Homo sapiens: one gene and its partners. The protein of the gene in region 1 interacts with the protein of each later gene in a pairwise test. Each region holds a gene or a part of one and is shown on either strand. Other genes may lie near its edges. The genes, in order: KCNJ6, FUNDC2, ITGAM and EDDM3B.

Evidence for each region.
Region 2: the proteins of KCNJ6 (region 1) and FUNDC2 interact in binary tests that used the Homo sapiens proteins (3 or more experiments, as listed by UniProt).
Region 3: the proteins of KCNJ6 (region 1) and ITGAM interact in binary tests that used the Homo sapiens proteins (3 or more experiments, as listed by UniProt).
Region 4: the proteins of KCNJ6 (region 1) and EDDM3B interact in binary tests that used the Homo sapiens proteins (3 or more experiments, as listed by UniProt).

Annotation. Positions count from the first base shown.
Region 1 is NC_000021.9:37,709,947-37,717,803, reverse strand, and holds part of KCNJ6 (G protein-activated inward rectifier potassium channel 2), read left to right. Parts: intron 1-568; exon of another isoform or gene 569-683; intron 684-1,602; exon of another isoform or gene 1,603-2,672; coding exon 2,673-3,593; intron 3,594-7,360; exon of another isoform or gene 7,361-7,490; intron 7,491-7,857. UniProt on the Homo sapiens protein: Inward rectifier potassium channels are characterized by a greater tendency to allow potassium to flow into the cell rather than out of it.
Region 2 is NC_000023.11:155,049,987-155,057,843, forward strand, and holds part of FUNDC2 (FUN14 domain-containing protein 2), read left to right. Parts: intron 1-1,683; coding exon 1,684-1,815; intron 1,816-4,608; coding exon 4,609-4,686; 3' UTR 4,687-7,857. UniProt on the Homo sapiens protein: Binds directly and specifically 1,2-Diacyl-sn-glycero-3-phospho-(1'-myo-inositol-3',4',5'-bisphosphate) (PIP3) leading to the recruitment of PIP3 to mitochondria and may play a role in the regulation of the platelet activation via AKT/GSK3B/cGMP signaling pathways.
Region 3 is NC_000016.10:31,262,567-31,270,423, forward strand, and holds part of ITGAM (integrin alpha-M isoform 2 precursor), read left to right. Parts: intron 1-2,828; coding exon 2,829-2,932; intron 2,933-3,215; coding exon of another isoform or gene 3,216-3,244; coding exon 3,245-3,315; intron 3,316-3,463; coding exon 3,464-3,581; intron 3,582-7,857.
Region 4 is NC_000014.9:20,763,018-20,771,576, reverse strand, and holds EDDM3B (epididymal secretory protein E3-beta precursor), read right to left. Parts: upstream 3,174-8,559; 5' UTR 3,071-3,173; intron 1,445-3,070; 5' UTR 1,427-1,444; coding exon 983-1,426; 3' UTR 629-982; downstream 1-628. UniProt on the Homo sapiens protein: Possible function in sperm maturation.

The DNA of each region.
Region 1 (7,857 bases):
AAACCCTCTTCTCCCACTTAAGGACTCAGAAAGACAAGAGCTTAGGGTGGCTTTGCACAGCTGGGCAGCCTCCCAGCGGTCAAGACGGGATATACACCAGGCCTGCTGGACCCTTCGCAGGGCTCTGCAGACAAGGTCTCCCCAGCCAGGCACAGTTTGAGCCCAGACACCGTTCCATATAAAGTCATATTTAGAGACTTCCACTCAGCACAAAATTAGCAGTGAGAGCTCAGAGTTGTTGACCATTCAAGGACAAGAACACCCTGCCATGTAGGGGGTAGCGGCAGTGAGAAAGCCATGGCCTCTGCCTCCCTCCACACATCCCAACCCACCTCCAGTGAGAAGGACATGGCCTTTGCCTCCATCCATACACCCACCCCATCTCCAGTGAGAAGGACATGGCCCCTGCCTCCCTCCACACACCCACCCTAACTCCAGTGAGAAGGACATGGCCTCTGCCTCCATCCATACACCCACCCCACCTCCAGCCCTCCCAACCTCAACAGCCCCCCATCAACACCTATCCTGGTATTTGTTCTAAGAAAGGGAAAAAAGCAAATTTTCTTACAAATGAATGACTTTTCTTATTTTCAATGAAGGACTACTGAGGGAGATCATCTAAAAGTCAAAGCTGTCAGACTAGAGAGTAGGCTCTGCAGAACAGATGCTGTCTCTTCCTGAGGCTGAAACACAAAAACAGATCCAGGAGATTGATTTTTAAGGCAACTGATCATCCATGAGCAAGGTTAACTCATAAGTTAGGTTGGGGGCACTCAAATCCCATCTCCGGCTATGTTCTTATTCAGATAAATGATGGTTTGTGGAGAGATGACATTTGTCCTTTAACCAAGATTAAAAACAGAGTGTCCATAAAGGAAACACATGGCAGAGTCAAACGACACAGAATTTAAGTCTGGAGGAAGAAATTTCTTACCAAACTTGTAGAAGACTTTAGTATTATTGGCCAAATAAATAATTTCATAAGTGGATTATATGCTTTTAAACAGCAGAAATCGGTTCCAAAATTCCCCTGCACTCAAGTTTTAGGAGAGCTTTCCTAATGCATTATTAACTAATGAGTGAACCAGTGCATTAATCATGAAAGCCATAAGAAACAACATAACTAGACATGGTGCCTCATGCTTGTAATCCCAGCATTTTGGGAGGCCAAGGTGTGAGGATGGCTTGAGACCAGGAGTTCAAGACCAGTCTGAGCAACATAGTGAGACCCCCGTCTCCATGAAAATAAAATAATTGGCCAGGCATAGTGACATAAGCCTGAGCCTCCTGTGCCTACTCAGGAGGCTGAGGTGGGAGGATCACTTGAACCCAGGAGATCAAGGCTGCAGAGAGCTATGATGGTGCCACTATACTCTAGCCTGGGTGGCAGAGCGAGACCCTATCTCTAAAAAAAAAAAAAAAAATTTAAACTTTTTTAAAAGAAAAAAAATAACCACAAGCTAAAATTACAGATGTTGAATGTTGAGGAGGCAGAAACCAAATCAAATATGTAAGCACACAGACAGAGAGAACATTTCCCCACCCTTTTTTACTTACCTTGGCATTGAATCAACCATTAAAGTACAATGCATGCATACTTACCGACAAAAACCAGAAATGTTTTTTAAACCCTGAAATTTGGCCAATAGTTCAAAGAGCTTGTTCAAGACTCTTGCCCTAAACATAAGGAAAGTGACAAGGGAACAATTTATTACAAAAAAATATTGATTGCAAGTCTGTTACATGCAGGCACAGATCACATACATGGTTTTGTTTAACCTTATAACAACACTGTGAGTTGGGTATCATGATCAATTTTGTAAATGAGGAAACTGAGGCTCACGAATTTGGATAGTGTGTTGTAAGTCAGTTCAGGCTGCCATAATAAAATATCACAGAATGGGTGGCTTAAACAATGGACATTTATTTTCTCATCGTTCTGGAGGCTGGAGTTCAAGATCAAGGTGTTGGCAGGGTTAGTTTCTGGGAGCCCTCTCTCCTTGGTTTGCAGATGGCCACCTTCTCCCTGTGTCTCATATGGCTTTTCCTCTGTTTGTGTGCACCCCTGGTGTCTCTCCCTCTTCGCATAAGGATACCAGTCCTATTAGATTGGAGCCCCAACCCTATGGCCTCATATAACCTTTAACTATCTCCTTAAAGGCCTTATCTCCCAATACTGTCACCTTAGGGGTTGGGGCTCAAGCCCCATATGGATTTGGTGAGGACACAATACAGTCCATAACAGATATCATGGCCAAGAGCCCACTAAGAGTTGCTAAGTAGTAGAGCTAAGCCTGTCTGAATCTAAAGAGGACTCCTTCATCAGAGCTTACTGCCTCTCCCATGCCACAGCATCTCAGAGTTGGGAGGCATCCCTCTGTGAGAGCTGACTCAGTAGAACCTGCTGGCAGGGACACAATTTTGCAGCAATAAGCTCCGTCCTGGTGGGCAGGATGGTGAAGTACTTACACAAACTAGATCGAAGAGCACAGAAGTCCAAGTCAACTAGAGGCCTATCCAGATGGTGTGGAATAAAAATGGCTTTGTCTACTTTGTTTATAGCTACACAAATGGTATTTGGTTTCACCAGCCCATACAAAGTGTGCCGTTCCATTGTCCTCAAAGAGCCAGCCTTTCATTCAGTGTTTCTTTTCTTTTCTCCAAACCACCAGCTAACGTCCTGGAGGGCGACTCCATGGATCAGGACGTCGAAAGCCCAGTGGCCATTCACCAGCCAAAGTTGCCTAAGCAGGCCAGGGATGACCTGCCAAGACACATCAGCCGAGATCGGACCAAAAGGAAAATCCAGAGGTACGTGAGGAAAGACGGAAAGTGCAATGTTCATCACGGCAACGTGAGGGAGACCTATCGCTACCTGACCGATATCTTCACCACATTAGTGGACCTGAAGTGGAGATTCAACCTATTGATTTTTGTCATGGTTTACACAGTGACCTGGCTCTTTTTTGGAATGATCTGGTGGTTGATCGCATACATACGGGGAGACATGGACCACATAGAGGACCCCTCCTGGACTCCTTGTGTTACCAACCTCAACGGGTTCGTCTCTGCTTTTTTATTCTCAATAGAGACAGAAACCACCATTGGTTATGGCTACCGGGTCATCACAGATAAATGCCCAGAGGGAATTATTCTTCTCTTAATCCAATCTGTGTTGGGGTCCATTGTCAATGCATTCATGGTGGGATGCATGTTTGTAAAAATCTCTCAACCCAAGAAGAGGGCAGAGACCCTGGTCTTTTCCACCCATGCAGTGATCTCCATGCGGGATGGGAAACTGTGCCTGATGTTCCGGGTAGGGGACCTTAGGAATTCCCACATTGTGGAGGCTTCCATCAGAGCCAAGTTGATCAAATCCAAACAGACCTCGGAGGGGGAGTTCATCCCGTTGAACCAGACGGATATCAACGTAGGGTATTACACGGGGGATGACCGTCTGTTTCTGGTGTCACCGCTGATCATTAGCCATGAAATTAACCAACAGAGTCCTTTCTGGGAGATCTCCAAAGCCCAGCTGCCCAAAGAGGAACTGGAAATTGTGGTCATCCTAGAAGGAATGGTGGAAGCCACAGGTAAGATGTGTTCTATCCTGGGATGGCTGTGGGATAGATGCTCATTTTAAACTGGACCTGATGTTCTTATCTATTACAAGATCTAGAATACTGAACCTCACTCAATATTGACAACATCCCCTTGCTTCATGACATAGTATGCCTACATGTCTCACCTGAAGTATATCCACCAAGAAGCCTAACCATTTAGTTTTTTAAAGCCCTTTGGAAAATAAATTAATGAACAATGAAAAATCACCATGTAATATATTTTAAGTCTCCAAATATTTACCTAAATTAAACTCTGATCTGTCTCTAAAGCATGTTTTAAATGGCCTTAAAACATTGCTAATTTAAATACTTGAGGTTATTTGTTACCAAGTTAGAAGGAGGAAGTTAAGCCTTTCAAAGGAAGCCTGACAAACTGCTTTAATAAAAATGCAATTTCACCCATTCTTTGAGAGTCATTTATAAGGCCTATAGCATTGGTTTTTCTTTTGTATGAAGTGAGTGCCTAGTATCTCTCCACATTCAACCTGCTGAGCTCCCAGTAAGTATAAAGCTGCAGACACAGTAAATAACTCTAGCAGAAAAGAAAAAAGTTGAAGATCCATTCATCTTAATCCCGCCGGCCCTCCTGCTGTTAATGGCTAATCATTGGGATGTTTTAGGGAAGATGATCTGTTCAGGAAATAGAGAAAATGGTCTGTTTTTACTGACGTCTTCGCTCATGTCTGAAATTTGCACGTTACACATCCCAACAGCAAAGCAGGTTCTGCCCATGTTTGTATGTAACATCCCCCAAAACAGAGCCATCAGCTAGGACTCAAGATAACCATAGTGCCTCACGGGGAAAGTATAAACCAGAACCCTAATTCATTAAGGTCTTTATTGTTCTTTGAGGTAGTAATAGTGTCTTTGGGGTCCTTTTTCCTGATACCATCAGCCCTTTTACGCTTTTAAGTCTTCAGCTTGAGATTCAGGTGGTTTATATTGTCTGAAATTGCATGACCAGCAGGCTGGCCCCATGTTCTTCATCAACCTGTGACAAGTAACTTAATCCTGTGATCCCTTTTAGGGAAAAGCCATGGGTCCCATGTTTCTACCTCCCTGTACCCAACAGGCAAGGTCACAACCTCTCACAAATTTCTTTTACGGTGGTGGTGTGAAACTTTTGCTATAGGGTTTTTAAATGCAGCAAACAGTGAAAACGTGAGTAAAGGGCTTTGCATGGAGCTCAATGGTAGGAGCGGTCTCCTTTCCATAGAACAAAAGGCACAGGAACCTAATCGGAAAGTAGCTTTAAAGAATAACAAAAGTCACTGTTGCAAAATAAGACATAAGTGCTCCAGGTGTTAACAGGACTATCTGTACCTTGAGCCTGATTTGGGGGTGCATTTGTGTGGCAATAGTTGGGTGGGGAGGAGGAAGGGAGATAGAAGGGAGAAGTAGAAGGGAAGGCAGGGGAGGAGGAAGGGGAGGAAGGAGAGGAGGAGAAGGGGAGGAAGGAGGGAAGAGAAAGGGAGGAAGGAGAGGAGGAGAAGGGGAGGAAGGAGGGAAGAGAAAGGGAGGAAGGAGAGGAGGAGAAGGGGAGGAGGGAGGGAAGAGGAGGGAGAGAGGAGGAGGGGAGGAGGGAGGGAAGAGAAAGGGAGGAAGAAGAGGAGGAGAAGGGGAGGAGGGAGGGAGGAGGAGGGAGGGAAGAGAAAGGGAGGAAGGAGAGGAGGAGAAGGGGAGGAGGGAGGGAAGAGAAAGGGAGGAGGGAGAGAGGAGGAGGGGAGGCTGGGGAGGAGGGAGGAAAGAGAAATAATTCAAACAGGGAGCTGTCACTTTCCTACAGACCAGAAACTTCCCCAACCTCAGCTGAGCACAGGGACTCTGGATCCCCCTAGCGGCCACAGAGCTACAGCCTCTGACACTATGAACTGACCACTCAGGATGCAGTTTTTCTTTTCCCTTTTCACCATAAATTCCCCCAAGAGGACATGAGAGAGGGCAGTGTCTCCAAGCTCAAGAAGCAAAAACCACTGGAGACGTACCCTCTGGTTACTGATGCTAGTCTGAGCTTTAAATTGTGGGAGTTAAGCTTTGTGTTCCCTCAAACCAGAGCCCAATCTCTGTAAAATAAATGAATCTGGAATAAGCAAATTATCTTTGTGATGTCCCTGAGTCAGAATTCTCCCTGGGGCAGGCCCTGGCTTTCTGATGACAGCTGGTAATGAGTGAGCCTTTCCAAAGGGAGGAATATGGTTTTCTTGGTAATTAACAGTGATACTTGCCTCTGAGCACCCTATGGCCTTTCTACAGCTTTCATAGAGAAATCTGAGTAATTACCAGCAAAATCAATCCAAACGCTCACCCCATCCCTGGGAAAAGGCAACTGCTACTCATTTTCTTTTAAAAAATAGTCTTCTAATTTCTAGACTTGGGGGGGGGGTTCTAGAAAGTTCTGGAGGTGTCTGGAAACTGGAAGTGTCTTGGTCTTTTCCTCAGGGGAATCATACAACTCAGTACCCCCAGCACAGCTGCTCTCTTACGCTTCAGCAGGATACTGTTTCTTTGTGAATGAAAAGCTCAATTAGGATTTATGGGCATTAAACAGGCCCTTAGGGGAGAAAAATGCTTCAATCTCTCAAAACCACAGGAAAAAAAAATGTGGACCAAATGCACACTCGAGGAAAACAAATTCACAGGGATCTAATTATTCATTGTAGTGCTGGACTGGAAATCAGGAGCCGTGATAATAGCAAGCTGACACAAAACAGCTTCCCCTGCGCTCATCACTTCTTTCAACAATGTCGCAGTTGACCTTAACCTGCTGTGCTCAGTGGTCTCCACGAGCAGGCCTCTTCCAGGGAGGAGGGAAGGCCCACATGGCCACCTTCACGCGGTGCCCTCTTCCCTGTTAGGAAGCAGGCATCCTGGGCACAGGATGATCCCAGCGTGGTGTTTTCCGGAGACCGGAGTTGTCCCACAGGAGGCCACCTGGGTCCTTCCGTCTGCTGGGAGCTCAGGCCCGGTGCAGGCGAGTGGTGCTCTGTGGATGCACTGCCTTCCAATGCCAGCCGCATTGCAGGGTCAGGTTCCATTTTTAGAAAACGAAAGTGGGCTCCTTGAAGGCTGGAAGCGAGCCCCCCTTTCATGGCCTTGAAGGGACTGCACAAAAGACAGACCCATGCCCACGCAGAACAGCCCCGAGTCCTTTGTGAATGGCTTTGGCCTGGTCCCGCCTGAAGTCAGGAGGGACATGCCAGGCGACCTTTCAAGAACCTTCCAGTCATGTGGTTCTATTTTTGAAAATGAATCAAACCCTGGAAAATTCTGACACCAGCCACTCAGACATCTAGGAGTTGGCTGTGTCTCATCTGCAGATATATTTTTAAAGGGGGCCGTTTATGTTCCTGACACATGGGCGATTTTGAGATAGTGGTGTTTACAGAAGGTTTCATAGCTACGTAAACAAACGTGCTCAGCAGCTGTGGCCCATGTGTGTTAAAATAGTAAAGCATTCATATAGACTGTTATTTATAGAGGGCAAATGGGCCTCGAGGCAAGATGACAGCCACGCAGCGCTGGGCTTGCTGCCAGTCAGCCCCCACTACGGCCTTGCTGATTGACGAACTTCCACATTTACCCCCAGCGATTATACAACTGCGACAGGCAGCACTTGCCCACTCCTCGGCAAATGTGCTGGCAAGGATGAGTCCCCGTTAAGCCTTTTGGTTATTTTACACTTCTTTTGATGGAACCTATCAGACTTACACAAAAACAGACCCAGTAGTATCACTAACCTCTGTGTCCCCGTCATTCTGCTCCAGTGATTATCAATTCAGGGTCAAACTTGCTTCCTCTGTATCCCCACTCATTGGCTGCCCACCAGAATCACATCATCCTCATCTGCAAATATTTCGGTATGTGCCCCTAAAAGATAAGGATTCTTTTAAAAACATAGCTATCATACCATTATGACACCTAAAATAATGACCAATAAATTAAGATCCAACATCTACCAAGTGTTCAAACTTCCAATCGTCTCTTACATGTCACTGTTTTTTATATTTACAATCAGCTTGTTTGAATCAGGATACAAATAAGGTTAACACATGGTGATTGGTTGAGATATCTTGTAAGCCTCTTAATCTATGACTTCTTCTTCCATCTGTTTTTTTTTCCAATAAGTTTTTCTTAAAGAAGATAACTTCTGAAAGATTTAAATACTGCATAGAACACTGGGGAGAGTGGAGGATGAAACACACCAGAGAACACTTTATAGACAAGGAGGCAAGGC
Region 2 (7,857 bases), on another chromosome or scaffold:
AAGTCTATGAAATTTTCTATGTAGACAAAGATGTCTATGATTGGAGACAGTTTGACCTCTTCCTTGTGAATCAGGATGCCTCCTAATTCTTTTTCTTGCCTTGTTGTGCTGACTCTGAATTCACTTCTGGTACGATATTTAATAGGAGTGGAGACGGCGGACAGCTTTGCCTTGTTCCCTGCATTCGTTCTTTCACCATTCTGTACAGTGTTAGCTGCAGGGTTTTTTATGTAGATGTTCTTTATCAAGTTGAGGAAGTTCCCCTCTATTGCTCTTTCTCTGAGAGTTTTATCATGAATTTGCGTTGAATTTTGTCAGATGTTTCTTGAGTCCTGCCTTGAGGTTAGGCCAGGCGATACTGCAGGAAAAGCAGGAAACACGCCACCAGTTTGGTGGTGCTTTGAATTCTGGTCTTCTCCAATCTGCACGTCGCTGTTTTTATGTAAGAGCCTTCAAATAGCTAGTCCATGTATTCTCTCAGTTTAATAGCAGGATTTTGTGGGATAAACAGGGTGGAGTAAATGAACCAGAGCCTTCTTTTAGATACAAATGTTGATACTCAACTATGTGGTTGCTGTAAGTAATTTGTTCTTTTTAGTACTAAGTAATATTCTATTGTGTAAATATGATACAATTTGTTTATCCATTCATGTGTTGATAGACTTTTGTGTATTTCCAGTTATAGACTCATAAATAAAGGTACTATGGCTTGATTACTTGTGAAGTTGAACTTTTTCCTTTTTGTGGACACTTTCCTCTGAATTGCCCTTACCCATTTTTAAAGTGAACTTTCTTACTGATCTCTATAAGAAGTTCACTTTTTTGAGTATCAATGTTTTGTTTATGATACACATCACAAGTATTTTCTCTAGTCTGTTTGGGTGACTGGTGGTGCCATTAGCTAAAATAGGGCCTAGAGGAAGAGCAACAATGCAGGAGGAGACTCTAGCAAGGTGAAGACTTTTAGTTTCAGATATTTTGAGATTGCCAAAAATTTGGTAGAGAGAAGTGATATTGATAGGGCATTGATTGATTGGCTACAGTCATTCTCTTCATTCCTAGGATGATATTAATCCATCATCAAAATCTACATGCTTGAATCAGATTTACACTGAGTTTTAGTGTTTGTGCCTGCTGTTTTTATCAAGGGAAATAGGTATATGCTGTAGGTGTCTTTGGATGTGGTTCTCTTAATATCCGTTTATATGAACTTGCTCATGAGAAATCTCTGTGGGGCCAGATGCTAGATTTCTTCCTGTTAAGCAACAGTAATAACTGCCTGAATGCTTTGCTCTGTTCACATTGTCAGGAAACTGACACTCATGGGCACATTGTCAGAGTCATTCTCTGGAAACATTTGTATTGGCTGTAAGGTCCATCTCTTCACCCTACATCTTGACCCCCCACCTTGATTTTCATCTTATGTAACTCTTTGTAAAAGGGTTGTAAGAGTATAAATAATTTAAAAGAATTGCCAGTAGTTATTTCTAGTGCCAGGCATATGGCTTCGCATATAGGGGGGATGCTGAGTAGATGTCATCATGATACAAAGAATCAAATGGCAGATGTCTCCAAAAATGGAAAGTCAGAGGGTTTCGAGAGTCTACTTCAGGATTTATCCTGACTAAAAGAAATAACAAATCTGTTTCTCATTTCTTGTTGTCATTATTGTTGATACTGTAGCTTGCAAACCATACTGGGTACATCAAAGTTGACTGGCAACGAGTGGAGAAGGACATGAAGAAAGCCAAAGAGCAGCTGAAGATCCGTAAGAGCAATCAGATACCTACTGAGGTCAGGAGCAAAGCTGAGGAGGTGAGACTTGCATTGTTCACGTGTAGTGTGTGAACAGTGCAGACAAAAACAGGGCTTAACCCTATTGTACCATATCTCAGTGATGGACAGGGCTTAAGCATTACAAAGAACTTAGAGTAATGAGACAAAACTAACTTGGATTATCATCACTTCAGAACATTTTTAAAAGCTGGATAATTGTTTGGTGACCTTTGTCTGTGCACATTTGTGGAGTGATTATCCCTTTAACCAGTTCTTGTAGGAATGTGGGGCAGCATAGTAGGTGGGAAGGATATATGGCCAGTATAATTATTTTGAGTCCCATTTTGTCGCTATACACGCATATCTCTGAAACATTCATACTCTGCTTGTTCTGCATATAACTAGTGGAAATGTCACAAGTATTCAACTCCACTGTATATCATCAAAATAGCCATAGATGATATGTTAAATAAGTGGATGTGGCTGTGTTGCAATAAAACTTTATTTAAAAACAGGTTCAGATTGGATTTGGCCCATGGGCTGTAGTTTGCTAACCCCTGATCTTGTTCATTAAAGCCAAGTTAGATTATGACCTGGCACTGCAGGGACAGGAGAAGTCCTTCCTTTTTAAAAGGATATTTTTTGCTGCTGCTTTATTACCTTTAGAAATATGTCAGATGTTGCAAATAAATAAGTACACTGAACTGGGGAGAAATAAACAAGGATCAGGGTGTCAAGAAGATAGCTGGTACTTTCTGTAGCCTGGAGTGATGAGAGATTCTCCCATTAGCTCACTCTAGCCTCACAGGGAAAACAGACAGATTGAGTGCAGGGGAGGAGAAATACCCTGTGTGCGCCTCAGGCTTCTCATGTTGTGAGTGGCTCTTCGTGCTGGTGATTGGCAAGTGGCTGGTCAAAGCTGGTGCCTTTACCCAGAGTGGGAAGGTGGCAGAGATGGGTATCTACAGGAGCCCAGAGCCCAGATAGTTTCTCTTTCCTTTCTTCCTTCTGTCTCTCCTCAAAGTTAGGAAAGTTACATTTTTTATTTCATGAAAACTTTATTATTCAAATGTTTATAAAAATAATGCATGGCTGGGCACAGTGACTCACCACAGTGAGTAAAAAAAAATTTTGTAAGAGAGGTCTCACTCTGTTGCCCAGGCTGGAGTGCAGTGGCACAGTCATGGCTCACTGTTGCCTCAACCAAGCGATCCTCTGACCTCAGCCTTCTGAGTAGCTGGGTCTATAGGTGTGTACCACCACACCCGGTGAAGTTTTAAATTTTTTGGAGAGACAGGGTCTCCCTGTGTTGTCCTGGCTGGTCTCAAACTTCTGGGCTCAAGCAGTATTCCCACCTCGGCCTCCCAAAGTGCTGGCATTACAGGTGTGAGCCATGGCACCTTGCTGAAAACTTTAAAAATAATACTGGAAGTGTATATAATAAAAAGCATAAAGTTAATATTTGATTAGAACCAACTGTTGACTCACAGAGGGAGTTTGTTATAAAGTAACCAGATAATTTGGAATTGAGTTCACTGTCACAGGCCCTGGGGATGTAGTGGCTGGTTTTCCTACTCATAGAGCCGGTGGTCTGATTTGAGAAACAGGATGAAGATTTAGTTCAGTATTTACCAACAAGATGACTTCAGTGAGAACAGTTTGGTGGGGTGGTGGAGTTGAAAGCCAAATTAGCAAGTTGAAGAAAGAGTAGTAAAAATAATAAACGAAACCAATTTTCTCAGGAAGTTGTATGATTTTTTTTCTTCACCCCAATGGCAGATGACAAAAGTGCTTCATTTAAGGAAATGTAGAGGTCCAGGAGAGATGGAGGAGGAGTGGAAATGAGGCAGGAAGACATAGGCATCGTTGGAGTAAGGGCTTACTGGAGGGTTAGAAGACAGTGGTCCTAGGAGGATGGGGTTGGTAGTGTGAAAAATGTTAGGGGAATGTCAGGGTGTGAGTAGCTTAGGTGGTTTGGGGATGGAAGTCACCGTACTTGAGTTCAAGAAATGATCAGGCCAGGATGTTGGATGTCTTGTTCATATGAACACTTTCTAAGGTGGTGATCACACTTAGGAGAAAGAGGAAGTCTGAGCCACTTATCAAAATTGTCTCTGAAATTGGAAGGGTGGGGAGTGGTCAGGAGATTGGTAGAGCACAGACTAAGGAGCCATAAAGAGTGTCTGAATGTATGCACTGAGTCTCAGATGACCGGGAGCTATTCCAGGAGGGTAGAGGGGAGGTGGGAAGCTTTGGGAACTTAAGGAAATAAGAACGTCACCTGTTAATCATCTTAGATGTGGTGAAGTGTGAGAATGAGAATTTATAGCATCTACCTGGGAGCAGGTTTCAGGGGGGAATGCATGGATGGAGAGATTTAGGGGAGAGACTTCAGGAAATGAGAAGCCTCTATTGGAGGGTAGATGCCAAAGAGGATGGAAGGAGCAAAATTGGAAACAGAATTGCCTCTGTAACCAGTTTATTTAGTGCAGCTTTACTCTTTCGCCATAACTGTCCCCATGAACTCTCCTTCTTTGTCCTTGATTCAAAGAGCCATTGTCTCTACCTCCTGATGTGCATCCTCCTTCCCATCAGGCTCCCTCTAGTCTTATTCTCCCCACACCAGCCAGTAGTCATTTTCATATGTAAGTCTATTTAATTATTATTAAATAGACTATTAGTGTAAGTCCATTGCCCTTTGGGTAAAGTGCAAATTACGTAACCGATGAGGGGATTGACATTGTTAAGACTGGCATAGGTATAATAGAGATGATTCTTAATATTATTAACATCCTTAGCAAAACAACCCATTGTACTATCTTCTGTTTTCAGGTGGTGTCATTTGTGAAGAAGAATGTTCTAGTAACTGGGGGATTTTTCGGAGGCTTTCTGCTTGGCATGGCATCCTAAGGAAGATGACCTCATGTTCATTGTTCCTGGTTTTTTCCAGCCAGCAGCCTCTACACTCCATCATAGGACATCGAGTCCCTCCTCCTCTTCTCCCATGCCTTCTTCCCTGCCATGGCAAATCTGAGTGGCTTCTCTAAGCATCTGCTGGTACAAGTCAATGTGGCACCATGAGCTTCATGGTGGCAGAAGAGACAATAGTCCTTAGCTCTCCTCCCAGTACACCCCCTACTTGGCCAGTCTGTAGGCCAACAAGAAGGTTCCTTTACCCCCATGCAAGACACTTATGAGAACACATTACAAGATGGCTGACCGTGGAGGATGAGTGGATCCTGAAAGGTTGTCCCAAACTGTTGATTTGGAAAAGAAATAAGCACATAGATAACCTTATTGTGTGCTGCATGGAAAGGAACTGAATACATTTGCCTTTAAGCATGAAAGATTTTGGTATCTTGGTGTCTACTTTCTTTTTTAGTTGGTTTTACATTACAGAAAGCTATTTAAATGTGTTATAATTATGCCGACAAAATTGGCAGCATAATTACTGTAATTGAAAAATCTGATATTGTCCAGGAATGCTTTCTACCGTACAGGATAATGTATCTCATGGCTGTTTCCAAAGGGTTTATTTATTGTAAAACAAGTGATTTAGGTGGGAAAGGGAAGATTTTGGATTTTTATTTTGTAGAAAAGGTTTTAAGCTTTGAAATGTGAATGAAATATCCTTATCAAAACATTAGGGGTGGCCATAACTCCTCTGTGCCACTTCTACTATTTTTTTTTTTAATCTAGTTAGTATGAAATACAACATTTAAACCGGAATTTTAAAGAAGTAGCTTTCCAGGGATTCAGAATTAAGAAAGATAGTGATAGGACATGAGAAATAAATTTCCATCAAGTGTAATCTACCGTCTCATGATGACCACAACCCTGAGAATTATTCTTTAAAAGCTTACACACACACACACACACGGGCACACACGCACACACAGAATCTTACCACATTTTGCTGTAGTGGCATGTTACCATGTCTACAGTCCCTACTAGAATATCAGTCAGCTTTCAGAGGGCAAGACTTCTGTCTTCACCATTATACTCACAGGGCCTAGCACTTAATAGGTGCTGAGTATTTGAATAATGACTTTATAGAAAGAAAACTCACTATTAAAGGTTAGTTTTACTCAGAATTGTTAATCTTGGAGATGATCTCTTGTGAAATATGAGTGTGTTTCTAAGGCCATACATTTAAAAATGTTTGCATTTTAACCCGTCTTGAGAATGATGTATTGAATTTGAAAATCAAAACTACCAGTGGATGTGTGGAACTTTACAGAAACCACCTATTTGCGTTTTTCTCCTTACATTTAAGGAAACATAAGCCATTTTGCTTGCAATATGTATGAATCATCTCAAAACCATAATGGTATGAGCCTCTTTGCTGCATATTTTGCTATAAGAACTTATTTTTTTTCACTTTTTATTATGGACGCTTTCAGGAATATATAAAAGTAGAGAATATAGTACAATAATCCCCCTGTGTATCTATCACTCACTCACAACAATCATCAAATTATAGCTCTGCTGGTTTTTACCAGTTATTGTGAAACAAATATCAAAATGTCATTTTATCATATTTCAGTATGTATCTCTAAAAGGTAAGAATTATTTCTAAAAATCATAAATACCTCATCATATCAGACATTAACAGTAATTACATAATATCCAAAATCTGATCAGTGTTCAAAATTTCCTCAAGTGTTTTATATTTAGTTTGTTTGAATCAAAATTCATGCAAGGTTCACATCGTATTTGCATGATTTGGATAAGTCTCTTAACCTTATAGATCCTCCTCTATTTTTTTTTTTTTGCTTGCTATATATTTATATCTCTATATATATTGATATAGACATATGTAGTGACACTGAGTCATCTGTTTCCTGCTTCCCCACACTCTGCCTCTCCTGACATCTGGGTCTCTGGGTTATGCCATATATGGTGATAGTGGCTGCAGCCACTTTACCTGTGTGACTTACCCACAGCAATGGGATGGTAACAGCAAAGCTAACCAAAGTGCTCTGTGCCCCTTTGGGTTGCATGTGGGGAGACTGGCCACCCAATGCCTCTCCAGTGGGGTAGGGGTTGTCTTTTGGTGCATCTGTTTTTCCTGTGATTATTGGTGAGGGCAGCAAAGATTAGCAGGTGGTTGTAAACTACCTTGAGTAGGTTGTAATAAATAGTCTGGCCTCAGACTGTATTCTGATTGTCTGAATTAAGATCTGTAGGTAGGTCCCTCCTGAAGTTTTTTCCCAGCTGGCTGCCTCTACGACTGTGAGGGTCATGGTTGAGGTCAGTATTGCAGGTTGGCCTCATCCTGCTAGTATGAGAACGGCTGTGAGTTCTGCCCACGGTGTGAGGCCACTGTGACCACTTGGGATTGTGCAGAGCTGGCATGGAGGTTGAACACGCACAGCTGCACACCTTGTTTTCAGTTTAGCTGAACCATCGGTGAAGGAGGCTCAGGCATTTGGGGTTACCTGTGAATCAAGGCCCTATTGTGCCAGCAGTTTTGTTTCAGGTGGTGAAGTGGGAGTTAAGGTTTCCCCCAAAAGAACAGCTGCCACTCCTCCATGCAAAACCGAGATGATTCAAGGACCAGGCAGCTCCACCTTTCAGTGCACTACTTTCATTTGACTGGAGAGGCCTGCTTAGCTAGGCACGTATTTTCTCCAGTAGCAGAGTCCAATGACGCTCTGGACTTCCTAATTAGTGGTGGTGGGGCGGAAGTTTTTCCTTGGGAAGAGCGTTGTCGCTGTATATGGTCCGCAGAAACTTGACTTGGAATGTGTTCGGGGTTTCATCGCCCCCTTGTGGCGGCGACGTGGTAACACCGCACTCAAGGCTTCCAACTTGTCAACCAATAGGATGGCATCTACGTAGTGAAGGCTTCCCTTCCCTTGTCCTGCAGCGTGCTGGACAGTGTCCCGGCTCAGGGACCCCTTCTGTCCCCTTCCTGGCTACTATGGGTCGGCCCTGCGTCCTCACCACTTTGAGCCACCCTTTGACCCAGCGTCTCTCCCGCAATGGGACCTGGTGGGATGGGGACTTGGAGCATGCTACAGGAGAGGTAGAACTTTTGAGTCTCTTCTTCCCAAGGTTCTCCCCAGAGTCGGAGAG
Region 3 (7,857 bases), on another chromosome or scaffold:
TAATTTTTTGATTTTTTTTGTATAGACGAGGTCTCACTCTGTTGCCCAATCTGGTCTCAAACTCCTGGCCTCAAGTCATCCTCTTGCTTGGGCCTCCCAACTTGCTGGGATGATAGGTGTAAACCACTGTGCCTGGCTATGGCCACTTTTGAGCTGTAATGGCAGAATTCAGGAGCTGTGATAGAGATTGTATGGACCCTGAAGCCTAAAACATTTACCTTTACAGAAACAGTAATTGTGGAGGTGATAGTACCTTTCCAGAAGAAGGGGGCTGGTCTCTGCTCTTTGCTTTATCTCCCATAATACAGCCCAGTGATTTGAGTCCATTAATCCCATGTTATGCTTGCATTGCATGCCATAATTGGGAGATGCTATAATTTATTTTATTTTATTTTTTTAGAGACTCCCTCTGTCGCCCAGGCTGGAGTGCAGTGGCATGATCTTGGCTCACTGCGACTTCTGCCTCCTGGGTTCAATCGATTCTCCTGCCTCAGCCTCCTGAGTAGCTTGGATTGCAGGTGCCTGCCACCACGCCTGGCTAATTTTTGTATTTTTGTAGAGACAGGGTTTCACCATGTTGGCCAGGTTGGTCTTGAACTCCTGAGCTCAGGTGATCCACCTGCCTCGGCCTCCCAAAGTGCTGGGATTACAGGCTTGAGCCACCGTGCCTGGCTTGTAATCTCCTTTTACATTACATTAGATCTCTTGTTAATGAACATTTAGATTGTTCCCAAACTTTTGCTCTATGAACAATGCTGTCATTTTGCACATGTGCAAGCCTATTTGGAAGTAAAGGCTAGGACTGGGATTGTGGTATCCACGGGTGCATGAGCACGTGCAATTTTAATAGATTTTTCCAGATCCCCCTCTACAGTGGTGGCAGCAATTTACACTCACACCAGAAATTCATGAAAATACCTACTTCCTCATACTCCCTCACTCATTTGCCAACTCAGTGTGCTATCAAACTTACTGATCTCTGCAGATCGAGTAGGTGAGAAGTGGTATCTTAATTTAGCTTTAAATTGCTTCTTTTTTTTTTATGAGAGAGGCATTTTCTGTGAACATGTTTTTCTTATCTGTTGGCCATTTTTCTTTCTTTTTTTTTTTTTTTACTAGTTTGTACAAGCTTTGAGTACACTGAGGAAAGTAGTCTGGGGTATGAGTTGTGAAGCTCTCTCCCTTGTGTATTATTTTTCTTTTGAGTATGCTTATGGTAGTTTATCACATACAAAAATTTATTTATTTATTTATTTATTTATTTATTTATTTATTTATTTATTTATTGAGATGGAGTCTCGCTTTGTCGTCCAGGCTGGAGTGCAGTGGAGTGATCTCGGCTCACTGCAACCTCTGCCTCCTGGGTTCAAGCGATTCTCCTGCCTCAGCCTCCCGAGTAGCTGGGACTACAGGTGCGTGCCACCACGCCTGGCTAATTTTTTTGTATTTTTAGTAGAGATGGGGTTTCACCATGTTAGCCAGGATGTTCTCGATTTCCTGACCTCGTGATCCACTTGCCTCGGCCTCCCAAAGTGCAGGGATTACAGGTGTGAGCCACTGCGCCTGGCCCAGAAATTTATTGAAAATGACTGTGTGGAGGCTGGGTGCAGGGGCTCACGCCTGTAATCCCAGCATTTTGGGAGGCCGAGCTGGGCTGGTCGCTGGAAGCCAGGAGTTCGAGACTACCCTGGCCAACATAAGGAAACCTCATCTCTACTAAAAATACACAAATTAGCCAAGCATGGTGGCACACACCTGTAATCCCAGCTACTCAGGAGGTTGAGACAGGAGGAATGCTTGAACCTGGGAGGCAGAGGTTGCAGCAGTGAGCCGAGATTGCACCACTATACTCCAGCCTGGGTGATGGAGTGAGAATCTGTTTCAAAGAAAGAAAATAAATAAAAATAAAAATAAATAAAATGACTGTGTGGGCCGGGTCCAGTGGCTCATGCCTGTAATTCTAACACTTTGGGAGACTGAGGTGGAAGGATTGTTTGAGCCCAGGAGGCAGAGGTTGCAGTGAGCTATGATTATGCCACTGGACTCCATCTTGGGCAACAGGGTGAGACCCTGTCTCAAAGAAAAAAAAAAAATGGTTGGCCTGGGACTACAGGTGTGTACCACCATACCTGGCTAATTTTTAAAAACATTTTTTGTAGAGATGGGGTCTGGCTATGTTACCCGGGCTAGTTTCAAACTCCTGGCCTCAAATGATGCTCCTGCCTCAACCTCCCAAGGTGCTGGGATTAAAGGCATGAGCCATGGTGCCCAGCTTGAATTGACCTATTTTTATTTTTAAAATTTATTCATTTATTTTTTGGGACAGAGTCTTGCCCTGTCTCTCAGGCTGGAGTGCAGTGGTGCTATCTCGGCTCACTGCAACCTCTGCCTCCTGGGTTCAAGCAATTCTCTTGCCTCAGCCTCCCATTTAGCTGGGATTACAGGTACGCACCACCACGTGTGGCTAATTTTTTGTATTTTTAGTAGAGGCGGGGTTTCACCATGTTGCCCAGGCTGATCTTGAACTCCTGAGCTCAGGCAATCCACCCCCTTGGCCTCCCAAAGTGCTAGGATTACAAGCATGAGCCACCGCGCCTGGTCCTATTTTTAAATGACTTCTGGTTTTTGTGTCATTCTTAGGAAGACCTTTTCTCATTCTGAGTCTTAACATTTTCCCATTTTTTTCTTTGCTAATTCTTCCTCCTAGTCATAGGAATTTAGGAATCCGGGTATGGGCCCCCACCGTCCTCTGGGTGGCAGAACTTCCTCTGTGGTCTCCTTCTCTCCCCACATGTCGAAGTTTTCTCTGTTCCCACTTCTCCCCACAGGGTGGTGGTTGGAGCCCCCCAGGAGATAGTGGCTGCCAACCAAAGGGGCAGCCTCTACCAGTGCGACTACAGCACAGGCTCATGCGAGCCCATCCGCCTGCAGGGTGAGTCACTGCCCCGCCGGGCTGGGACTGGGATTCCCCTGTGAACACATAGGGACTTTCCAGGCACTCCTGTGTCCTGGGGATCTGTGGTGGGGACACAGGTGCCTGCCTCCGTACCCTCTCCTCTGCCTGCAGTCTCTACCCTAGACATCCCCAGGCAACCCCTCTGTGTTCCTTTCTTTCCCAAGATTTAGGATCCCCCTTCACCGTCAGACCTCCTTGTCTCCCGCATGGAGGTGACCCCTGCCCAGCTCTTCCACAGCCTTCTCTGTCCCCCCACCAGGGTGACCATGCCCATATCTGTCCCCGCAGTCCCCGTGGAGGCCGTGAACATGTCCCTGGGCCTGTCCCTGGCAGCCACCACCAGCCCCCCTCAGCTGCTGGTGAGTGGGGCTCGATCAGAGGAGCATCCTAATGGGGGTGTTTGGGGGCCCACGCATGGTGGGGCTGGGGGTCTTGTGGAGGGTGGAGGTGCTGGGGTACAAGGACAGGAAGCAGGGGCAGCCCCTTCCACTGGCTCCTGTCCCCTAGGCCTGTGGTCCCACCGTGCACCAGACTTGCAGTGAGAACACGTATGTGAAAGGGCTCTGCTTCCTGTTTGGATCCAACCTACGGCAGCAGCCCCAGAAGTTCCCAGAGGCCCTCCGAGGTGGGTTGCCTTTGGCAGAGGGAACAGATGCGCAGCAAAAGACCAGGGGAGGGGGCAGGACTGAGGTGACGTCTGCTCAAGGTCTGGGCTCTGGGTGCAGAAGAGTGGGGGAACTGGGTCCCATTAGAGTCAGAAGCTAGGGAGGTGCTAGGGTCTTGTACTTTAGGAAAACGCCTTGGCTAGGCACAGTGGCTCATACCTGCAATCCCAAAGCTTTGGGAGCCCAGGAGCTTGAGATCAGCCTGGGCAATGTAGTGAGATCCTGTCTCTAAAAAAAAAAAAAAAAAAAATTAGCTGAGTGTGGTGATGAGCACCTGTAGTCTTAGCTATTTGGAGGCCAAGGTGGGAAGATTGCTTGAGGCCACAAGTTCAAGGCAAGCCTGGGCAACATAGGGAGATCCCCGTCTCTACAAAAAAAAAAAAAAATTAGCCAGGCGTGGTGGCACACACCTGCAGTCCCAGCTACTCAGGAGGATCACTTGAGCCTGGGAAGTTGAAGCTGCAGCAAGTTATGATTGCACCACTGTACTCCAACCTGGGTGACAGAGCAAGACCCTGTCTTTAAAAAATAAGTCCAGGTCACACTGCAGAGGAGGGGATGGTGCAAGGTGTCATTGGCAAGAGGTGGGAATCTTGGGGACCATCCTGGGGGGCGGCCTTCCACACCCCTGTTCCCCAAACCTCTGTTGATTGAGATTCTGAGTGACTGTATGGATTTTTTTTTTTTTTTTTTTTTTTGAGGCAGAGTCTCGCTCTGTCACCCAGGCTGGAGTGCAGTGGCACGATCTTGGCTTACTGCAACCTCTGCCTCCCAGGTTCAAGCGATTCTCCTGCCCCATCTTCCCAAGTAGCTGGGATTACAGGTGCCCGCCACCACACCCGGCTAATTTTTGTATTTTTAGCAGAGACGGGGTTTCACCATGTTGGCCAGGCTGGTCTCGAACTCCTGAGCTCTGGTGATCTGCCCACCTTGGCTTCCCAAAGTGCTGGGAATGAGCCAGGGAATGAGTGGGGGGCATGAGCCACCATGCCTGGCCAGAGTGCGTGGATCTTTCAAGCTGCTTTTTCCCACTGCTTTGTTCGATGGCTATGCCATCTTTTTGCTTGTCTTCATGTTGATTCTGGGACCACAGGCGAATGTTTCTCCCTTGCATTTTTTTTCTTTCTCAAGCCCTGTTCCTCTATATTTCACCCTCCACAGTTAATCCTCCTTCCTCCACAGAGAAAACAAAAGCTTCAGGCATGGACTCCCTCCACTTTCCCCTTCTCTTATTTTATCTTAATAAGCGGTTTTCCAGTCTTCACTGGAATTTGTTGACAAATTCTAAAGGAGCTGTAACACCGCACTTTCTCCTTTTTCTCAAATTTCCATAATGACAGCACTCCTGGCAGTGACTCACTCGTTTTAGAGGAAGACCTGTCTCTCCTCTGTCCCATGACTAAATTCTTCCATATGGGCTTTTGAGAGTCTCTCATGCACCAACTAAGGTGATCACCTATCTTTCTTTTTTCTTTTTTTTTTGGAGACAGGGTCTTGCTCTGTCACCTAAGCTGGAGTGCAGTGGCACAATCTCGGCTCACTGCAGCCTCTGCCTCCTGTGCTCAAGAAATTCTTGTGCCTCCGCCTCCAGAGTAGCTGGGATCACAGGTGCGCATATACTGATTTTTGTATTTTTTGTAGAGATGGGGTTTCACCTTGTTGCCCAGGCTGGTCTCGAATTCCTGGGCTCAAGAGATCTTCCCACCTCAGCCTCCCACAGTGCTGGGATCACAGGTGTGAGCCACTGCGCCTGGCCCAGCATCTCTTGAATCACTTGTTTTCTCTCTAGGACAATTAACTTCCCCCTTCCTCTGGCTGTAAACACTCTTCATTCTATCTGTATCTGAAAAGCAATCAACCACCACAATCGATAGCCATGAAAACAATCTTCTCTCTTCCAGTCTCCTCCTCATCTCCTGCCATCTCTCCTCACCCTCACCACCCAAGCTTCCTGAGTGCATTCTCTTCACCCCCGGCTGGCCTCCAGCTTCCCTCTCCACCTAGGGGCACTGGGTTCTGGGTTCTCTTTTCACCCACGTGTTCTTCTTTCCTGAAATCACCCAGTTCTGTGGCTTCAGCTAACACTTCTACCTCTCCCTCTTTAGACCTCACTCTCAGGGTTCAAGACTACTTCTTTAAAAAAGTTTTCATTTATTAAAAAATATATAATACATACACTTGGTTCAAAATTCGAAAGGGTGCGGTAGCTCACACCTGTAATTCCAGCACTTTGGGAGGTCAAGGCAGGAGGATTGTTTGAGGCCAGGAGTTTGGGACCAGCCTAGACAACATAATGAGACCCCATCTCTACAAAAAATGCAATTAGCCAGGCATGGTGGCGTGTGCCTGTGGTCTTAGCTATTCAGGAGGCCTCCCAAAGTGCTGGGGTTACAGGCATGAGCCACTGTGCCCTGCCAGTCTTTCTAAAATACAAAACAAATCATCTCACTTCCTTTTCTAAGAACCTTCTGTGGCTCCCCATTGCCTACAGATAAAGTCGAGCTCCTTATTGGAGTAGAAAGGCCCTTGCCCGCTGCTCTTTGCTTGATGCCACCGCTGTGTCTCCATCGCCGTCACATACGTTTGTCCCTGTAGTGCTGTTTCCATCAAACGGCATTCCTGGATTCTGCCAGAATCCTTTTGAGGCCCTTGTCCCATATATCAGTAGGAGTCTCAACTGGGACCAAAAGCACATTCCAGTAATGTAACTGCCCAAGGGGTTCACCTTGCTTGCTGCCTAGACAGAGCCGATTCATCAAGACAGCAGAATTGCGATAGAGAAAGAATAATTCACACAGAGCCAGCTATGCAGGGGACCAGAGTTTTATTATCACTCGAATCAGTCTCCTCGAGCATTTGGGGGCAGAGTTTTTGAGGATAACTTGGTAGGTCGCGGGGGAAGCCAGTGAGCTGGGAGTGCTGATTGATCAGGGATGAAATCATCGGGAGTCGGAGCTGTCTTCTTGCGTTCAGTTGGTTCCTGGGTGGGGGCAGCAAGATCGGATGAACCAGTTTATTGATCTGGGCAGTGCCAGCTGATCCATCAAGTGCAAGGTCTGCAAAATATCTCAAGCACTGATTTTAGGAGCAGTTTAGGGAGGGTCAGAATCTTGTAGCCTCCAGCTGCATGACTCCTAAATCATAATTTCTCATCTTGTGGCTAACGTTAGTCCTACAAAGGCAATCTAGTCCCCAGGTAAGAAGGAGGTCTGCTTTGGGAAAGGGCTGTTACGATCTTTGTTTAAACTATAAACTATAAACTATAAACTAAGTGTCTCCCAAAGTTAGCTCAGCCTACACCCAGGAATGAACACGGACAGCTTGGAGGTTAGAAGCAAGATGGAATCAGTTAAGTTAGATCTCTTTCACTGTCTCAGTCATAATTTTGCAAAGGCGGTTTCAGTAAGATTTATTTACAAAGAGGGGGGTTTATTTATAAAGGGAGTAATTATAAAGCTGTGACAGGCCTAAGGGAGCCATCAGGGACTTTCCAAGCCCTGGGCAAGCAGGTCTGTTGCCACCCCTGGGTTTATGGGTTGAGGAGAGGGAGAGCTCACCAGGGTCTGGAGAGAGTCATGTGGAGCTGGCTTCCTTCTGAGGAACAGTTGGTCTTTTGTGAAGGACATAGCTGTCCCCAAACAACCTCAATGGGAGAACACCCGGACCTCACTGCCCTCCTCCCTCTAGTCTTCTGTTGAGCCCCCTCATCTGCCAAATCCAATGGGAATCCAGAGGGCAACAGAGTCCTGGTGATGGGGTCCCTGCAGGTTGACCTCCCAGGCCACAGAGCTGAGCGGCAATGGGTAGAAAGTGGATTTGGGGATGGGGCAGAAGGCAGAGGAGCACATTCCACATCACTTTATATGTGTGTGCCCTTCCCTTTTCTAGAATCTACTCCTTTTGTATATCTGGCAAATCCTTCCTTCCTTCCTTCCTTCCTTCCTCCTTTGCTTTCCTTTCCTTTCCTTTCCTTTCCTTTCCTTTCCTTTCCTTTCCTTTCCTTTTTTTCTTCCTTTCTTCCTTTTCTTCGAAGTCTTGCTCTGTGACCCAGGCTGGAGTGCAGTGGTGCGATCTCAGCTACTTTTTGTATTTTTAATAGAGATAGGGTTTCACCATGTCAGCCAGGCTGGTCTCAAACTCCTGATCTCAAGTGATCCACCTGCCTCAGCCTCCCAAAGTGCTGGGATTACAGGTGTGAGCCACCTCGCCCAGCTGGGCAAATTATTTCCTGTTCTT
Region 4 (8,559 bases), on another chromosome or scaffold:
CAGGGGAAGACTCCTTCCCTCTCCACTGTTGATCTTCATGATAGAGTAACTTCCCTCTCCTCTTAGAAAGACTTCATCGCTATCACATTAAGATGGAATGTTAAATACACTCTTTTAAATTGGAAAGGAAATGAAAAACTATAAAGAAAAGAAAAGAAGACTTGGGGGACAAACTGTAACTAATTAATTTGTTGTAACTCTTAAACCAGCTGTTATAGAAATTGTTGTAATCCTGTTAAATTCTTTTGTCTTTTTCCTACATAAGCAAGAACTTAATTTTCAGCTTTGGAACACTGACTCCATTTCTGTGGAGTCTGTGTGTTACCGAATGGCCACTCCTAGCCTTTTGCTTGAATCAACTCTTTAAAACTGGATTCTGACACTTTTGATTATTTCAAATTGATGCTGCAATCAATGCCTACATCACAACTTGTCTTGAACTAAGCACACAATCATTCATACCCTCATCATATACACAAACATATTACATACATTAGATATGCACCCATAAAATACACCTTCAATCCCTTGCACAGCATCAATCACATGCATAGTCTAGATCACACACACCCATATCAATCACACTATACTCACTCTGTGCACATAACATATATGAATGTCACACACATTGCAGTCATATAATTTATTTAGGGAAGGGAAGATTGTTCAGCTTGGGTATGTATCAAGAGAGTCAATATCAGGAAAGTCTTGGGTTAATCAAGAACAGATGCCATATGAGCTGAATGTCGACAAAAGTATAAGAGTAAATTAGGTAAATGAAGACAAAAGTGTATTCCAGGCAGAGAAACAACACAGGCAAAGTTATGGTATCAAGAAATTATGCTATTCATAACTCTAAGTATTTGGAAAACATTGACAAATAAATGCAAGAGGGGAGTGGTAGGACTATTGATGGAGGCAGGGGCTGCTACTTAGAAAGCACTGAATACTCTACCAATACCTGAGGATGTGCATAGACTTTCTAGTTGCCGATAGGTTCTACCATCTTTAGGTCTTCTATGCTATCAACATACCCGTCCATGCTACAATGGAATTCAATGTAGTTGAAGCTCCTGCTCTCTGTGTAGCTATTTTTGGAATTCTCCTGGTGACACTTGAGTACTTTGAGAGGATTCTGGACCCATACATATGCATTTCGGAAGCGATCCATCCAGTTGTCACTAGTGCATATATGCTCGATTTTGTACCATGAGATATAGATAAACATGTGAGAGCTCTTGTCTTTCAGAGCTTCATTTTCTCTCATGAGGACATCACATTTGTACTCTCTGAATTCTCGACTTGGACTTAAGTAGTGCTGTTTCATGAATTCTCTCCAAGAAACTTCTTTGCTCTGTACAAGCAGTGTGCATAGGATGCAAAGTAGGGCCAAGAGTGTGCCCCAGATCTTTAGAGACGATGCCATCTCAGTCACCGGGGCCGCCTGCGTGTCCACAGAGAAGAGAAAGAAAAGCATTATCCAGACAATGCCCAGAGAGCTGAACTCCACCTTAAAATTCCTTCCCCACCAGGCAGGCACTTGGGTGCAATTTTACTATTTGGTTCCCCGATGAGAAGATGCTAATTCTCATTAGAGAATAGAGTTTCTAAGAACTAAAAACACGCTTCAGCCTGTGTAAGCGAAACACATAATTAGAAAAAATAGATGAAGTTCATTTTGAGAATTCCAACCATCTCCTCTCATCCCTCTCTTACACCCAACCTGAGGAGCCAATCACCCTCCAGCTGGCTCCTTTTTACCAGACCAACTCTCAGGAGATCATGTGTCCAAAAGAGAATGATATTTTAAGGTTTATGTCCTTGAAGTGGAAAGGGTTGTCAGATTTTAGGGAAATGTAGAAAATGAGTAACTACTTGGGAAGTGGTTCCTAGGTAGGAAGGCTTCGATTCGCTAAAATGACAGCCTAGCCTGCAATTACTTCTTGCCTGCTTCTCCAATTACTTAATGATGCTTCTCCAATCTTGACTTCCTTATAACACTTTCTCCAAAGCCTGAGTGGAACGTATGTTCATTACTAACTACCCATATTCCTTCTCAGGGGTCATTCCCCTAATTATCACTATTACAAATGATCTTGGTTTGTCAGAGCTGCTCCTTGAAAATGTCATCATAAAATAACTCCAGTTTTGAGGTTTTTATTTGTTTATTTATTTTTGAGACAGAGTCTCACTGTGTCACCCAGGCTGGAGTGCAGTGGCACAGTCTTGGCTCACTGCAACCTTCACCTCCAGGGTTCAATAGATTCTCTGTCTCAGCCTCCCACGTAGCTGAGATTATAGGTGCCTGCCACCACACACAGCTAATTTTTGTATTTTTTTTAGTAGAGACAATGTTTCGCCATGTTGGCCAGGCTAGTATCAAAATCCTGGCCTCAAGTAATCTACCCACCTCGGTTTCCCAAAGTGCTGGGATTCTCAGGCATGAGCCACTACACCCAACCAGAATTCCAGATTTGAAATATTCCTGTAATCAATCAAGCACCAAGACTAAAAGAGCCCCCACAGTGGCTTCTGTGGTGATAGCATGGAGTGTGGGGATCTTTTTGAAAGAGTCTACCGTTTAAACTAGTGCTCTGTCCTCATTTACCATGAGAAGTGTTCCCGCCCTTACTGAATCTCTAACCTGATTCACAACTCTGAGCATTGGTGTCCTCAGATGGACTTAATAATAGCTCCCTACAGACCTGCAAGTGTCTAATGAGACGCATGTATTTGAGAGCACTTCTAATGATGTCAAATGTCCACATCAGACACAGAACAAAGGGTCGGTACTTCCTATCTGTGGAACCCTGTCCTGATGATAAAGACCTACAGAGGATAGAAGAGCAGGATGTAAGCGGTTTTAATGCATTGTGTTTGAGAAGACTGGGGGTGAAGGAAGGGAGGGGCAGGGAAAGCCTGTATCAGTGGGACTGAGGCTGACCAGAATTCACACCTTTGTTTTCCATGATTTGGATCCTTCTCCATTGTTTGCTATCTAAAAGTTCAATCAGCCTCCTTTCAGTGCTCCTGGCTGTCCCCCAAACATCCTCAGCAGAGCCCTTCTTACCCTACTCAGACTCCAAGTTCAGGTCACTGGTTGTAGTTGGGATCAGTGTGTGGATCTGAAGAGCAGAGTCTGAGTCCTCCTTTCCTCAGGGCCCTGGAAATCTGCAGCAGTGGAGAAAGGAATAGCAGGGGGAGCTGCAAGGCTCCAGCTGATTGGTAGTGGAGGTGGTGATGGGGAATAGCCTTATTATGTGAACTTGTTCCTGTATCTTCTCATCTGGAACACTTGAGTTTATTCAGACAGTGGCCTCAAGCAAAGGCTACAAACATCAAAGGCTGACTCCAGGGCACAGAAGAAGTGCAAGACCCTAGAGTGAGGTGACCCCAGAAAGGGGTTATCTGGTGCTATCAGTAGACAACGAGAGACCTGGCTTCTGCACTCAATTTCTGACAAAGTTCTGGGAAGTCCCTGGAGGGTTATGCTATGTTACACAGAAACTTCTCTGAAGAAAGCCACTTATAACATTGTGAACTGTGGGACTTTCGTTGAGAGGTGAAAGAGTATCTAGTGAAACTGGTGGCCAGATAGTTATGATTAGGTAGCCAGTATCTGAAGTTTTACTAGGCAGTTTGTTATTGTCGATGAAACGAGTCAGCTGGGTGTGGTGGCTCACGCCTGTAATCCCAGCACTTTGGGAGGCCAAGGCGGGAGGATCACCTGAGGTCAGGAGTTCAAGACCTACCTGGCCGAGGTGGTGAAACCCCATCTCTACTAAAAATACAAAAATTAGCTGGGCGTGGTGGTGGGCACCTGTAATCCCAGCTACTTGGGAGGCCGAGGCAGGTGAATCGCTTGAACCTGGGAGGCAGAGGTTGCAGTGAGCCGAGATCACGCCATTGCACTCCAGCCTGGGCAACAGGAGCAAAACACCATTTCAAAACAAAAGAAAAGAAAAAAAAAAGAGTCAAACTCTGTAAAATATTTGAAGAGATTTATTCTGAGCCAAATATGAGTGACCATGGCCTATGACACAGCTCTCAGGAGGTCCTGAGGACATGTGCCCAAGGTGGTTGGAGCACAGCTGGTTTTATACATTTTAGAGAGGCATGAAACATCAATCAAATACATTTAAGAAATACATTGGTTTGGTCCAGCAAGGCGGGACAACTCAAAGCTGATGGGGAGTGGAGGGCCTCCAGGCCATAGGTGTATTTAAACATTTTCTGGTTGACAACTAGTTTTGTCTAAAGACCTGAGATTGATAGAAAGGGAATATTCAGGTTAAAATAAAGATGGTAGAGACCAATTCTTTCGAAGTCTTATAGTGGCTGCCCTTAGAGACAATAGATGACAAATGTTTCCCTTTCAGATCTTAATTAATATCTTTAGGATTGGAAGGTCTGGAAGAAAAATATTTAGCTATGTTAATAGAGATTCTTTACAGATGCAAATTTTCCCCCACAAAGAACAGCTTTGCAGGGCAATTTCAAAATGTGGCAAAGAAACATGTTTTGGGGCAAAATACTTTTTCTTGTTTGTCTGGTAATGTTATGCCAGAGTCAGGTTGGAAAGTAAAACATGATATACAGGGTTAAATAAAACTCATCTGATGAGAATTGATGATTTGTAGGGCATGACTCCCCAGACCCCTTAGATAGGAATTTGGGCAAGATAAAAAAAATCAGAGTTTAGTCCTCATTAACAATAACCTTTGCTGACGCTGTAGTCCTTACTGCCTTAGTAAAATGTCAGGTAGCCTAGCCATAGTTTCCACAATGTTCCTATATATCACATCTGACTCTGAAGTATGCATCACAAGGTGTTGACCTAATTGTTTTTCAGGAACTCAAGACTCAGCCCTAAACTCAGCTCACTCTGGTCAAGACCACCAGCCCTTAAACTGAGTTTGTGTGAGCATCCCATGGGTGACCTTTCCATATCACATCTGGAATTTCCAGCACGTTTCATACCAACTCCCCCTAAATTGGTATATGCAACGAATATTGTTTCAGTAACAGTAACCAAAGGTTTCACTTATGGATAATGTAAGATACTTGAATGTATTTTCTTTTTCTATTTATTTATTTACTTTGGAGACAGAATCTCCCTCTGTCACCCAGGCTGGAGTGCAGTGGAGCAATCTTGGCTCACTGCAACCTCCATTTCCCAGGCTCAAGTGAATCTCCTGCCTCAGCCTCCCAAGCAGCTGGGACTACAGGTGGGCACCCCCACACCCTGGTAGTTTTTTGTATTTTTGGTGGAGGCGAGGTTTCATCATGTTGGCCAGGCTGGTCTCGAACTCCTGACCTTAAGTGATCCGCCCGTTTCGGCCTCACAAAGTGCTGAGATTACAGACGTGAGCCATTGTACCTGGTCTTGAATGTATTTTCTATCAACATCCGCAAGGCCACTCCTACCTGAGCCACCTTGGTTGAGTTTGTCACTGGACCACCTAGCTATTAGAATGTCAGAATATTCCGTTTATATCCAGAACTTTTCTTCATACTTCAGCTCCTGTCAAGCAATCATTGAATAATAGGGAATCATGTGCTGATAGACTCTGTGGGGCACGGGAGAGATATTGTTCCTATGGAACTGAACTGGGGTCTGATCGTCCAGCACAGTAAGATCAAATATCCACACCAAGGTCTGCGGCAGGAGAAAGGAGGGAGTTTATTTGCAAAGCAGCAAGCAAGGAGAACCTTGTGGCTCACACTGAAGACCTGACCTCTCTGATGACTTCAGGTAAGGGTTTTTAAAGGCGGGAAAAGGCCGGGTTCGGTGGCTGACGCCTGTAATCCCAGCACTTTGGGAGGCCGAGGCAGGCGGATCACGAGGTCAGGAGATCGAGACCATCCCGGCTAATACAGTGAAACCCCGTCTCTACTAAAAATACAAAAAAATTAGCCAGGCGTGGTGGCGGGCGCCTGCAGTCCCAGCTACTGGGGAGGCTGAGGCAGGAGAATGGCGTGAACCTGGGGGGTGGAGCTTCCAGTGAGCCGAGATTGCGCCACTGCACTCCAGCCTGGGCGACAAAGCGAAACTCCGTCTCAAAAAAATAAATAAATAATTAAATAAAGGCGGGAATAAATTTCAGGAAAGCAAAAGTTACAGGCAAAATAGTAAATTAAAATGTGGAGATTACACATTAGTTTGGCTGAATAAGGCAAGGTATTGAAGCAGGGGCTCACAGGTCATAGGTAGAGTCAAAGATCATCTGATTTGCAATTGGTTAAGGAGATGAAAGTTTGTTTAAGAATGGGGGTCAGCAGAACAGAATGTTAGCTTTGGATCATGGGTGTGACTTTCTCCAGGCCACTCGAAATAATTTAGATGAACGGTGGTGAGAGTTTAGTCCTCAGTTTCCCCCTTATCTGAGGTCTATGTGCCAGCAGATCTGTTTGTTGGGGGTCTGAGTTTCTGAAGAACTCAGGGATGTATGTTAAGATGCTATTTTTAGTTTCTATAGGGAACCAAACATCCCCTGATTCTAACTTCCCTGGTTATTGTTTTAAGCTAGCATTACCTTCTTGCTTATCTAGTTCCTCTTTTTTCTTTTCAAGGCTAGCTAAGAAATTGAAGATTTTCCTTTATTTCCATGCTGGGTTGGGGAGGGTGCCCTGCTCACCTCTAAGATAGATCCCTGCTCTGTCTTATTGCCTCAGAGCAGGTTCTATGCATCCTCCTACTCTCTAGGTCTTTTGATGATAGAGAAGAGATAAAGGAAACAATTCTGGGCATCTGGATTTGGATGACTTGAGAGGCGATTCTGAGGGAAAATCAGTCGTTTGTCATGTGCCCACACATCCAGAGCTCTTTCCAACAAGTGTGCATTATCTATTGAAGACTTAAATTCAAGTAGTGACTCAAGGAATGTAGAGAGAGGTGGGAGAGAGAAGCTACCTGAGCCAATGTTCGAAGAAGCAAGCTAAGAAAGAGCTCTAGAGCTTTTCAAGGCATCATATCTGATGATATATTCTAGTACATCAGTGAGTAATTTTGAGAATTTTTAGAAGTAATGCATTTGAAAGTAGTTTTAAAACAATAAAATGTAACCAAATGCAGGCTTGGCTGCTTGCAAAACCAATAACAAGGACAAGATGCAGTGAAAAGAAAGAAGCTTTATTCCAGAGCTAGCACTGGAGAAGTGGCCATGGCTTGTGCCTTAAAGGAACCATTTCAAACTTTAGCCTGGGGAGAGGGGCTTACAAAGGGAACTTGCAGTGGGTGGCATGCAAGGAGTGGTGCTGGGTACAGGTCCGTGCGTCTCGTTCTGGTGGCTATCTTGAGTCATGGTCCACCTGGAGCATGGGCTGGCATCATCCCCACAATGGCCGGGTTGTTGACTAACTGCTTTGAGGTAATCTCTGGAATTTTGCAGCTGGGTTTCCATGCCTGTAATCTGTCTCAAAATTAGTCCCTAGAACTTCTAAGTAAGCACATATTTAGATACAAGCCTACAGTCAGATAAATGTATGTGACGTAAGGGAGTGTACGGTGGGAAATGGCGGGGGAACAAAGACTCTTGGTATGTTTCAAAGCTATATATTAAGACTGAGGAGGGGAAAAAATTTCTGCAGTTTGCTTCAAGGTTATATCTTGAGACTAAAAAAAAGAGAGAAAAAAAGAAAAAAGTTTTAAAATGCATTTTCTTTCTTTCTTTTTTTTCTTTTTCTTTTTTTTTTTTTTGAGGCGAGTTTTTGCTCTGTTGCCCAGGTTAGAGTGCAGTGGCACGATCTTGGCTCACTACAACCTCCACCTCCTGGATTCAAGTGATTCTCCTGCCTCAGCCTCCCAAGTAGCTGGGATTACAGGTGCCCTGCCACCACGCCCGGCTAATTTTTGTATTTTTAGTAGAGATGAGGTTTCACATGTTGGTCAAGCGGGCCTTGAACTCTTGACCTCAGGTGATCCACCTGCGTAGGCCTCCCAGAGTGCAAGGATTACAGGCCTGAGCACCGTGCCTGGCCTGAAATGCATTTTTGAAGTTCAGTTACTTGGTTACAGCTCCCTACTGTCAAATCCCATCCATTTCTATGGGAAGTGGTCAATGCAGGCGATCTGGCTACTTCCTGCTGAAAAGAGGCATAATTAGGAGGTAATGGGATGGAATCTGCTTACCTGGAGTTGGAAATATTCTTGAATTCCCAGATTGACAGTGGGAACTTGCTGGAGCATTTTGGTGTGGGGAACTAAGAGCTGCTGAGAAGTCTGTCTTGCATCCCCATACAGACAGCACAATAGCAATAAAATCCATAGCAGCTGAAGAAGACACTGAGTAGAATGCCAATTAAGCGATGTATAAGTCTTCCATGCACTAGGGAGTTGACTAAAGCGTGCCATCACAAGGCCTTAGGATGAGGCATCTATGGTGGAAATATTTAAGGCCTTCATAGCTAGGGTTACACTGTGGGAATAATCTGATACACACACACACACACACACATACACGCAAGACTCAGTCTTAGTTAATGCACATGTGCCACCTTGGGCTGCAGGCAGGATATCTAAGGCCATACAGTTCTTTAAGGCTGTCTAATCTGTGAGGT